Regions from separate parts of the Homo sapiens genome. Here region 1 is linked to region 2. The links come from fine-mapping of genetic effects on gene expression. A gene starts in region 2. The other region holds a variant in brackets. All regions are shown on one strand. Distances are between the middles of the regions. Region 1 has its middle 380 kb from the start of MAGEB16. Region 2 holds the start of TMEM47 (transmembrane protein 47).

Region 1 (5,387 bases), 770 kb after region 2:
AAATGTCTGGTATTATTATTCTAGTAATTTTTATTCTGTAATGTTATTTAATGTAAACTTCTTTACAACTTCAAGAAAAGTGGGGGAACAGTGGTTACTGGCTTCCATATTACAACGAAGCAAATGGAGTCTGAGATGGTTATTAAAAGACGCATCAAAAACCCAAACTGAAGTCTGACTCCAGAACTCACCTTGCAAAGTGTCATCATTCAATTGCTCCAATTAAAGTCAAATTTATCTGATTTTAAGGAAAAAGCATATTACTGAAATATTTGTATATGTGTAGCCAGTAATGGTGACATACCAATAGCACTTGTGGACAAATGTTAAGTGCCTGGTTGCCCAGGATGATTCTAACCTCTTGATGGAGTGCAGGATTACTGCATTTTTAGTCCAACATCCAACATGGTTCATTGCTATCAAGATTTCGACACCACTATCCACCTTACTTTTTATGCCAGAGTATGGAGTTTTCCCCTCATTTAGGGCCTTATTCTTGCAGAGACTCTACCTTGCTTTCAGAAATGTGGATAGTCTTTGTCATTTATGTGCCTCCAACAAATTATGAGGTTTAACGAACTATTAAGAGCTTTTTATATGCATGCTTATTTATAGTAGTACATGTCTCTAAATGGTTTGCTGTACTATAACATATTCATATACATTATGAGTAATTCACATGAAGTTATGATCTGATACCCCAAAACATAAAATATTAAACATTTATGTGTACCAAATAAAATGCCACTCAACATATCTTATGAAATCTCATTCTAAACCTCTAACCCTTACACTGTTCTAACAGTTGTCATAGTTTAAGACATAATTGCTTTAGTTAGTATGATAATGTGTTTCTATGATTATTTGTGACAGACATCATACTCTAGACTTGATTAGCATAGAATAAAAAACAAAACATTGGAGAAGCTCTACTTGAGATGAAGCTCAGCAGTTATAGTACTTTCTCACTGCTGACCTGTGGCTTTTAAAAATGGGATTCTGGTTTCTTTCTTTCACGTTTATTAATTTGGGATAATAATGAATGGTTTTAGTGAAGTTTGTGAGTTGACAGCTATTTTATCTAAGATCCATGAAGAAAAGTAAGAATATTTACTTTATTATTCTTTTTATATTAAAAGTTGTGCATGCAATCCAGATTGTTAATTAATATATAAAATGGTGTTTAACATTATTAGTCATCAGGATTGCAAGTTCAAACCTTAGTAGGAGATTACTGTACCACCAACAGGATAGTTAAAATTAAAAGAACTGCCAATGTCAAGTGTTGGCAAGGATTTAGAGTGACTGGAACTCTTGCACGTTGTTGGCTAGGGGTAAATTGGTAAAAAACACTTTGGAAAACTGTTTGCTGGCAACTAGTATAGCTAAAAAACACTCTAGGATTCAGTAATTCCACACTTGGCTATATATACAAGAGAAATGCATACACATATGCACCAAAATACATGGAAAAAAACCTCATAATGTGAATGGATAAATATATGTTATGTATTCATACAATGGGATATAACTCAGCAATAATAGTTTTATGATTTCTGAAAATACATGGATGAATTTCACATAAATAAAATTGAGCAAAAGAAGGCCAAGCACAAAAGAGGACAAACTATAATTCCATTCATATCGAGTTCAAAAACAAACAAAACTTTTGGAGTATATAAACTAGGAGTGGGCACAGGAGAGCTTTCCTGGGTGCTGGATATGTATCTTGATTTTGGTGCTGATTTCATAGATGTAAACATTTATCAAGCTTTCTTAAGATTCATTTACTTACTAAAATATATACACTTAAAATAATTGAAATAAGAATCTGTATAACCAACATTGTCAAAATGCCCCGTTAAAGCAACTTCCGCACTGGCTGATTCAAAGTGTTTGACTTTAGTCCCAGAGAATGAAAGCTTTTCTGAGTCACCAGATCATGTTCCTGTAGGTTCTACTTGGATAATACATTTTAAATGCTGTGTTCAGGAGTAACTGATGCTTAAATATAGATTTAGTGTCATCACTTTTTATTATAAAATGCTAAATGGAAGTAGAAACATCTCATGACCCACATTTTCAGTTTAATAGTCCTAAACCATCATTTTCTATCCTAAACATATAAGTCAATAACTTAAAAACAATTAACAGTCTATATATATATATATCTTGTATATATTATATATCATCATAACTTACACAACTCCTCAAAAGCAATAATTTAAATAAGTACTAGATTTATGCATTATTGAAAGAACTTTGGTTAAGAAAATATTCCAAATTTTTCATGAGATTTGAGAAAGTAAATGTCATATACATGTCAGTTCATTTTTTCATATACATGTTTTTTTACACATATTCTATCAGTGTTTCAAAATATAATATGCAGACCCAGAAGAAAGGTACAGACCCCATTTTTAAACCATACTCTGGACAGGACTATTTTCTACTAGGAATGGACTACCCTATGAAGGCAAACAAGACAGGAAGGCACTCTGGATCCTGAAGCGATTCTGTCCACCAAAACATCTTCTGAGGTGTTGTATTTTGCTTTTGCTAAAGTTTTGCACAGACCTCTGTGAGTGGTTGTCCCAGATACAAAATCACACAGGAAATTAATTCCTAAGGATGAAGCTGAAGTCACAGGCTTTAGTTATCTTTGGAAACCTCAGAATGCTTTTTCAGCACTGGCTTTCTGATCTTTGAAATGGAGCAAATCCTTGTTCCCTGAAAATGACTTTTGTATTAGAAGACATTCTTGAATATACTTTTTCTTTGGAGGAGTGTCTGTTCCTTACATGAAAACCTTGACATATTTTTGAGTGTGTCAGTGCTCCAATTAAAACATAGTGTCACAAGCCAGGTGCCACTGTCAATATTGCGATGGCTGAAGTAAGGTAAAATATAAAAGAAATTTCATGACAGTAGAAGTGGTAGAGCCAGAAAGTGAATTGAATTCATTTAGAATTAATCTTTTATGGATCAGGGAATTTTTTCAGAGTTTCTTAAAAAGGAGTTAGCATTCAATTAGCAACAAACTCTAATCTGTGTCAGCAATAAGACACTCTTTAGCAATTTATTTCAGTGCAAAAGGTCACTGCAGAGAAAATGCAATTATTGAATATCTAAGAGAGAAATAAATATTGAGGCAGAATTAGGATTTTTTAATAGAATTATGGATATTAGACTTGATTCTAAACTTTATTTAATCAAAGCACTAGATTATTTACTTTGGTGAGTAAGCTTATAATCAGGAACAATGAAATTATTTTTTGAGAACATTA[A/G]AGCTAACATATTTTTGCAAAGTTGTAGCAATGATTTAAGTATAGTTGCTTGGAGCTATTGTACAAAGATAATGATAGACGCTGGATGTGGTTTCCTAAACCCATGTGTGGGACAGGATCACTACCAAACATGAAGCGAGGCCTGGCCTCAAATGCTGGGAAATCTTTGAGAGGCCATTATTCAGAAGTTCATCACTTCAGAGGGTCCTTCACCTTGACTGCATTGGGTTTATTCTCAGACCCCTACACATCAGAATTTCTCTTGGGTAGTCAAGGAGAGCAGCATATAGTAGAAAACTCCCAAAGATGTCTGTGAATCAGGACTTCAATGGAGACAAAGCTACCATTTCAAATTGAATCTCAGCCTAAGTCATACACCACATACAAAAATTAACTCAAAATGGATCACAAATTTAAATAAAGCTTAAAACTATAGAACTGCTAGAAAAAAGTAAAAATAGTTATGATCTAAAGCTAAGTAGTGTTCCTAAACTTGACTAAAAGCACAATTCAGAAAAACAAATAACCTAAATTTCTTTAAAATTAGAAAATTTTCTTCTGTGACACGTTATGTTAAGAGAATGAAAACACAAGCTACAAATGGAAAGAAAACAATTAGAAACCAAACCATATATTTATCAAAGAACTACTACTGTCTACAGAATATTAAAACTCTCAAAACTCAGTAGTAAAAAAATAACAATCAAACAAAATCTAATCTAAGTGATTAGAAATGCTAAAATACATGAAGAGACGTTTTACTAAAGAGGATATATAGAGAGGGTAAATAAGTATAAATAAGTATATAAAAAGATGTTGAACCGCATTAAAAATTATGAAAATTCATTTTAAAACCACAGTGAGTGCCAGGCGTGGTGGCTCATGCCTGTAATGCCAGCACTTTGGGAGGCCGAGGTCGGCAGATCACCTGAGGTCAGGAGTTCAAGACCAGCCTGACAAATATGGAGAAACCCCATCTCTACTAAAAATACAAAGTTAGCCAGGCATGGTGGCGCATGCCTATAATCCCAGCTACTTGGGAGGCTATGGGAGGAGAATTGCTTGAACCCAGGAGGCGGAGGTTGCAGTGAGCCGAGATCGTGCCATTGCACTCCAGCCTGGACAACAAGAGAGAAACTCCATCTAAACAAACAAACAAACAAACAAACAACAACAAAAAAACAAAACAGAGATTCTAATATTCCCCATCAGAATGGCTACAATAAAAAATAGTGAAAATAACAAATGTTGTTAAGGATGTGAAGAAACCAGATCACAGAAATGTTGCTGGTGAGAATGTAAAATGTCACAACCACTCTGGAAAGATTTTGGTGGTTTCTTATTAAAAAAAAAGCAAATACCCTACAATCTAGCATTTACACTCTTGAACATTCATCACCAAGAAATGAAAAGTTCTGTTCAAATACCTGTACATGAAAGTTCATAGTAGCCTTATTTGTAATAGTCAAAAGTGGAAACAACTCAGATGTTATTCAGCAGGTGAATGATTACAGAATATTTGGTATATGTACCATGGAATACTACTTAGCAATAAAAGGAAATAAACCACTGATACACACAGCAGCCTGGATGAATCTTCAGAGACTTATTCTGAGATAAAAACAAGCCAATCCCCAAATGCCACTTACTCTATAATTCCATTTATATAACATTTTTTAAATGACATAATATTAGAAATGGAGAATAGATTAGTGGTTTTCAGGGTTTAAGGAGGGGGTAGAAATTGGAATGTGGTAAGCTTGACTATAAAAAAGCAACATGAAAGATAAATGTGGTGCTAGAACTACTTTTTCTCTTGACTGTATAGATATAAATATTCTGGTTATGATATTCTACTATAGTTTTGCAAGATGTTATCATTGGGGAAATTGGACAAAGAGTACATGGAATCTCACTTTTTAAATTGTACCACTGCATATGAATCTAAAATTACATTAATTTGTTTTAAAATACCTTAAAATAATATTAATACATGTGTTTTTAAGTGTAACAGATATTATGGGCAGAAATATTACAAATGAGTAATACCAAGATTCTCTTAGCTGAAAATACTATAAATCTCTACTAAAAAGTATGTCT
Region 2 (5,387 bases):
CATTTGGTACCAAAATTAAAATGCAAGTTTAAAAATAATGGCTTAGGGGAAAGTTTCAGTAGAAACTGGGTCTAAGTAGGGCATACTATTGTGAGTAGAAACATTCCTGAAATGCTCCTTCAGTAAATACAGGCCTGCCTCTTCACAGCAGTTTTAATTCTAATTAAGACAAACATTTTTAATTAAGCCTTAAAGATCCTGGTGAAGGGCCTTCAGTAAAAGTGTCCTTGGTGGTTCCTCCCAAGGTAATTTATTTTGAAAGACAAAGATGTGGATCTCTCAAAATCTTCAGAGAAGACATTTCCCTCCCTGTTTTCTGCTACTCCACACAGCAAACAGACGAAAAAAGCTGCTTGCCCTTTGGAACAGACAAGAAAAGCACTGCTGGTTTTGATTCGGGCATTCCCCTTCCTTTCAAAACACTGGCGGACAGAAGCTTCAAATTCACATAACATAAGAAAGTACATTTTGTAAAGTGGGGACACAGAGCAATTTTCCATATCTTGTTTCCTTTCCTCCACCCCCGCCCTGTGTCCCACCATCACCGTGGAGAGCAAAAAATGAACTGCTATTATATATACACAAAGTCAAGAACTTGTTCCAGAAAACCTCTAACAAAATCATCTCTACTTTTTACCCATTTGCTTATGAATTCTACTTTATCTGGGCTGAAAACTATTTTTTTAAGGCAAGATAAGATGAAAGCTGATTTTCAGAAATCCAAATAGAAATATACGCTGGGCTATGACTTTCAGCAAGGGGGTAGAATAAACAGGGAAAAATCCCAAACTGGGCCTGCCTTTGATTTTTACTTTGCAGAGTGCTATTACCGCTATATTTGCATTAGGCTTGCGTCTCCATATTTCCTTGACTAGAGAGGAAAAAAGCTGAGATAAATGGGTATGGAGGCAATTAAGAAAAGGTTAGCAAACACTGTATGTTGCTCTGCAAACTCGAGCTGGCTTCTCCCCATTCCCTACATTCCTGGCCAAGAAAAAAGGGTACTGGCTTGAAAAGCAAATGTGAGTTGAAACTGGTTTCTCTAACCTATCTGAAAAGTCTTTATGCAATCAGGGGTCTATTATTTCAGGAGACAGAGAGAAAGGGGCAAAACATTCACGTTGCCAAGGAGTCGTGCAGTAGCTGTCATTCCTACATAAATTTTATTATTGAAGAGGGGAAAGGAGATATTTTCGCCAAAGTTTATTTGGATCCCCTGGTTACCGAAGAAAGAAATTCTGCCGATTTATTTTATCTTTAGTTGTAAACTGCCAACCCTGAAAGAATTGAAGGACCTAAATGTTGACCTCCTGCTGCCAACCAGTTCCCTCCACAGTGAATTAACCAACAAAGAGGAAACCCTTCAATGGGAATTTTGAGGTAGTATCAAAGAAAAAGCCTTTTTTAAACACAAAATTAAATTTACAGAAGAAACTTGGTCAAATTTTCCTGTGTTATAACAGGAAACCAAAGACAAAAGAAAATCAGATTTTTGTGGCTTTTTGTGCTATTTCAACTTTGTTACAACTTGAAACGTTTCCAGGAAAGCTTTATAAATAGTCCCAGAGAAGACATGAAACTGGAAGGAATGTAATGAGTTTCTCAGGTGTCTATGTGTGTGTGTGTGAGTCTGTGTATGTGTGTGTGAGAGAGAGAGAGAGAAAGAGAGAGAAAGAAAGAAAATCGCCGGCAGGTCCTCTCTCTTTATTTCCCTTTCTCTTCGCTGACACCAGCAGTTGAAGAATCAAAATTAGAAAGGAAGGGGTTTGTAGCGAGAAATCATAAGTTGACTGATTTTTGCTAAGGGCATAACTGGGGCGCCGGGGAAGGCAACTGGAGGGTCAGGGAGGGCGGAAAGCAGTAAAGCCCCCTGGGACTGGTAGCCTCAGTAGCTACCTTATTCTCCACTCCCCACCCCCATCTTATCCATTTGCAGCTTTCAGCGCTGGCGGAATAAAGCACAACTTTCTAGGCATCTGTGAGTAGCTCATGGAGAAAAGAAAGGTCTGGAGGAGAGAAGAGTTACTTAGAGTGGCAGAGAAAGAAAGGCAACTCACAATCAACGGCGGCGTCACCAAAAAAGGAAAGGAAAACAAGCCTGTCCCTCTCTCAACTCTTCATATCCATCAAAAACGTAAGGAAATAAAATCCAAACCGAAATACATTGGTGAAAACGCAGATAAGGTGGAGTGGAACCGGCAGAAATGTGAACACTAGGCAAATTCGTCCTCGAGAGAGGAAGGAAAAAGAGTGGGGAAGACCGAACAGCGAACCCCCGCAGCATCTCGGTGGAGTTGGGGCGTTTTTGCCTGCTTCTTTTTTAACGGGGGTGTGGAAGGCGTCGCATTTTTTTACACAGCCACATGGCTCTCGCCTCAAATGATAACAAATACCCAAAATAGCGTACGTGTTACTCCAGAACAGGAGGAATGGCCACGGGGAAGGGAGAGGGCGTGGGCTGTCGCTTTAGGTTTGGCGACCAGGGATGGGGAGGGAAGAGGGGTGGATGCCAGGGAGGTGGCGGGAGCCCCAGGATCCGAGAAGGGCCTGGACGGGGTGGGACGGGCCAGGGCAGAGGATGCGGGGACGTGGGGACAGGCGGTGACTGTCCTGGCAGTGGGGCGCGGGGCAGTCCGGGGCGGGAGGCAGGGGTCGCGGCGCGCCAGGCCCTCACCGCTGCTGAGCGTGGACTCGCAGTGCCAGATGTCCAAGCTGGCGGGTTTCCGGCAGGACTCCCACAACGACAGGTAGTACTGGTGGTCAGCTGTGACCCAGGCCGGGCTCAGCACCGCCCCCAGGTCCAGACACAGCGCCAGGAAGATGCACACCAGCCCGACCAGCTTCAAGGGGGTCAGCACCGACACGCGCACCTCCTCCATGCCGCTGCCCGCCGAAGCCATTCCTGGGCGCCGCTGTCGTCCGCCCCGCCGCAGGCGAGGACGCCAGGCGGGTCCGGAGAGCCGGGAGCCGGACCTCCCGAAGGGAGAAGCCGCCGAGCTGCCACGCGCGGGGACTCGCTCCCTCGGGGCTCTGCGCGCCCCCTGCCGCGCGGCCAAGGTGGGTCTGCGGAGGCGGCCGGCCGGGTGTGGGTCGTCGGCAGCCGCAGCGACGTCGATTCCACCCCGGACCTTCGCCGCCGGCCCCGCGCCGCGCTCTGCCAGCGCCCGCGCCCGCTCCTCCCGGCTCGGCCGGGCTCGCTCCGCCCCGGCCCCTCCCCGGGCTGCGGGAGGCGGTGCCGTACGGGGAGGGGCGGAGGGCCAGCACTTGGTGGCTTCGGCTCCAGTTCCCAGTGCCGGAGGCTCGCGCCTGTCCCGCCCCTACCCCGCCTCTGGCCCGCGGGCGGAGCCCAGTGCCAGCCCGCGCCCCCGATTCGCAGCGCGCGGCAGTTCCTTGAAGCAGCCCCGCGCCCAGCCCGGCCCTCGCCGGGCCCCCAGCCTCGCTGGCTCCAGGTCGCCGGGCTCTCCCCTTTCGCCCAGTCACGTGGGTTTCCTTTTCTTAGGGAGCAGGAGTGGGCGGTTTTCTAGAAGGCGCCAGAGGTGGATTCCTAGGTTTCCTAAGCTGTGCCTCTTGGAGCAAGGACAGGTCCTCTGTCTCTCAGTGATGTAACACGCCCCTCCCCGGACAATTTCACATCCTGAGAGATTTGCGGGACGGAGGAGAAAAGTGACTAAATGCATTTTGCCCTCTTTTCAAAACCAGACGGGCCCAGGAGTCCCCCGGTTTTCCCTGTTTTCTCACTTCTCCGCTAGCCTGCTGCCGCTTCTGTTCTCTGGGCTCACCTGCTTTTGCGCCCCCCTATGAAGGGCATTTGCTCTGAAAACGCAGGCGCTAAAAAGGAAATGAGAGCTCCTGCGAAATATGAAGTAAGTCTTATTTCCATCTCCACTGCTCTGCCCTTTGGGTGTTGGCTAAAACCTTTATTAATTCCGCTTTGCATTATGCCAAGCTGGATCTAATTCCCCTCCTGGGTATTAGGATGTCCTTGTCCTTAGCAAGATCTAGCCCAGGACCTGCAATAGGAAAAGTGATGTGTATATTTCCTGAATGGTAAACTAAGCAGTCTACAAATATTTGTTGAGCATCTAAGGGCTAAGGATTCAACACAATAGGACATCGTCCTGTTCTTAAGTAGATGCACCATATTTTCTCCCTTATGTGAGGACTAAACACCTCTTGAAATTGAAATTGAAATTTTGTAATTGCCTGGTTCAGCATGTGATTGGTGGGTTATCTGTCTCTTGTAGCTCTTTGACTCATCTCCATCTTTTCTATAAAATAAATAATTTATTGAATACATTAATGAGGAGGGGCGATGTTTCTAGATCTTTAGTCATCCCAAAAACTTGGTGAGACTCCCAAAACAGTGGTTAAGAGCTGAAGAATGCAAGAAACATGTTCTCTCTTCTATGAAACACAATCCTCAATGTTGCAAGATTTCATACTTTTGGTTGATAAAAATTATTTTTCCCCAACCACATCTTTCCATAGGTTGAACACATGTTGACTGCAGCAACATTTTGGGCTAAGAAACAATCGAGTTAGTGTCAAATGAGAACAAACCTAATGTAAAATAAACGCCCGGGCTTTTCTTATATTTACAATTTCGGGAACTTTTCTCCCACCTCTCAATCATTACCGTGCTAATTATTGCAGGACCCTTAACAAAGAATGCCTAGAGCATCCAGAGCTCACTAACCTCCAAATCCCAAAGGGCTTCTTGGCTTCTCAACTAGAAAGAAGCCTAAGTGCATATTCTCCTTAAAAAATTAGGGAACACTGAAAAATTTACAAACCGGGACAATTAAGAGGTGACCAGGATTGTGTGACTGTTCTTTTATCTAGATTTATAATGTGTATTCAAAAGTAATAAGAAAATGTCTTGAGTGTGCTCTCAAAGATATAAAGAAATCTTTATTTTGCCTCCAACTTCTATCATCTTCTCTTTAATAAGTTTATTTTCCAATTAGCCAATAGTTTTCTTTATTCTCTTCAATGCAGGCTTTCTTTCCCCTCTACCCCTACCCCAACCCCCACCTCCACCCACATTTTTGCTTAATTTTTTTCTGGCTTGTTCTCAACTGCTTGCTTGAGTTACTCCATCCTTCTTTATACTATCTAAAAAAATTGTCTCTATACTGTCTCCAAAACTAGAAAAGTAAACAATTTTTAACAAAAAGCCAAATTTTCCTTAAAAAACTCTATTCCTCTATTAATAATTTATAGAATTTTGCACAACATAGGCCCATCAACCATCCCTAATCCTCAATTTCAAAATACAACAAACTCTCAAAAGTATTTTTTTTCTTTTCATATATTTGTAGCAAACTCAGGGGCACAGGGACACTTCCTCTCCAACTGCTGAAGGTTCACTGGAAATGAACTGAGAA

Evidence for each region. PIP is the estimated chance that this variant, and not a neighbour inherited with it, causes the effect.
Region 1: its variant is the best candidate, but not a certain one, in a credible set for the expression of TMEM47 in tibial artery (GTEx, PIP 0.59).

What each region holds. Positions count from the first base shown.
Region 1 is chrX:35,420,548-35,425,934 of GRCh38, forward strand. No RefSeq gene overlaps it. Among named protein-coding and RNA genes, the nearest start is that of MAGEB16, 380 kb to the right of the region's middle. The variant A/G (reference allele first, on the strand shown) is at 3,288.
Region 2 is chrX:34,654,130-34,659,516 of GRCh38, forward strand. TMEM47 (transmembrane protein 47) reads right to left here and starts at 3,156. Exons shown (of 3, transcript NM_031442.4): 1 at 2,675-3,156. The coding sequence starts at 2,900.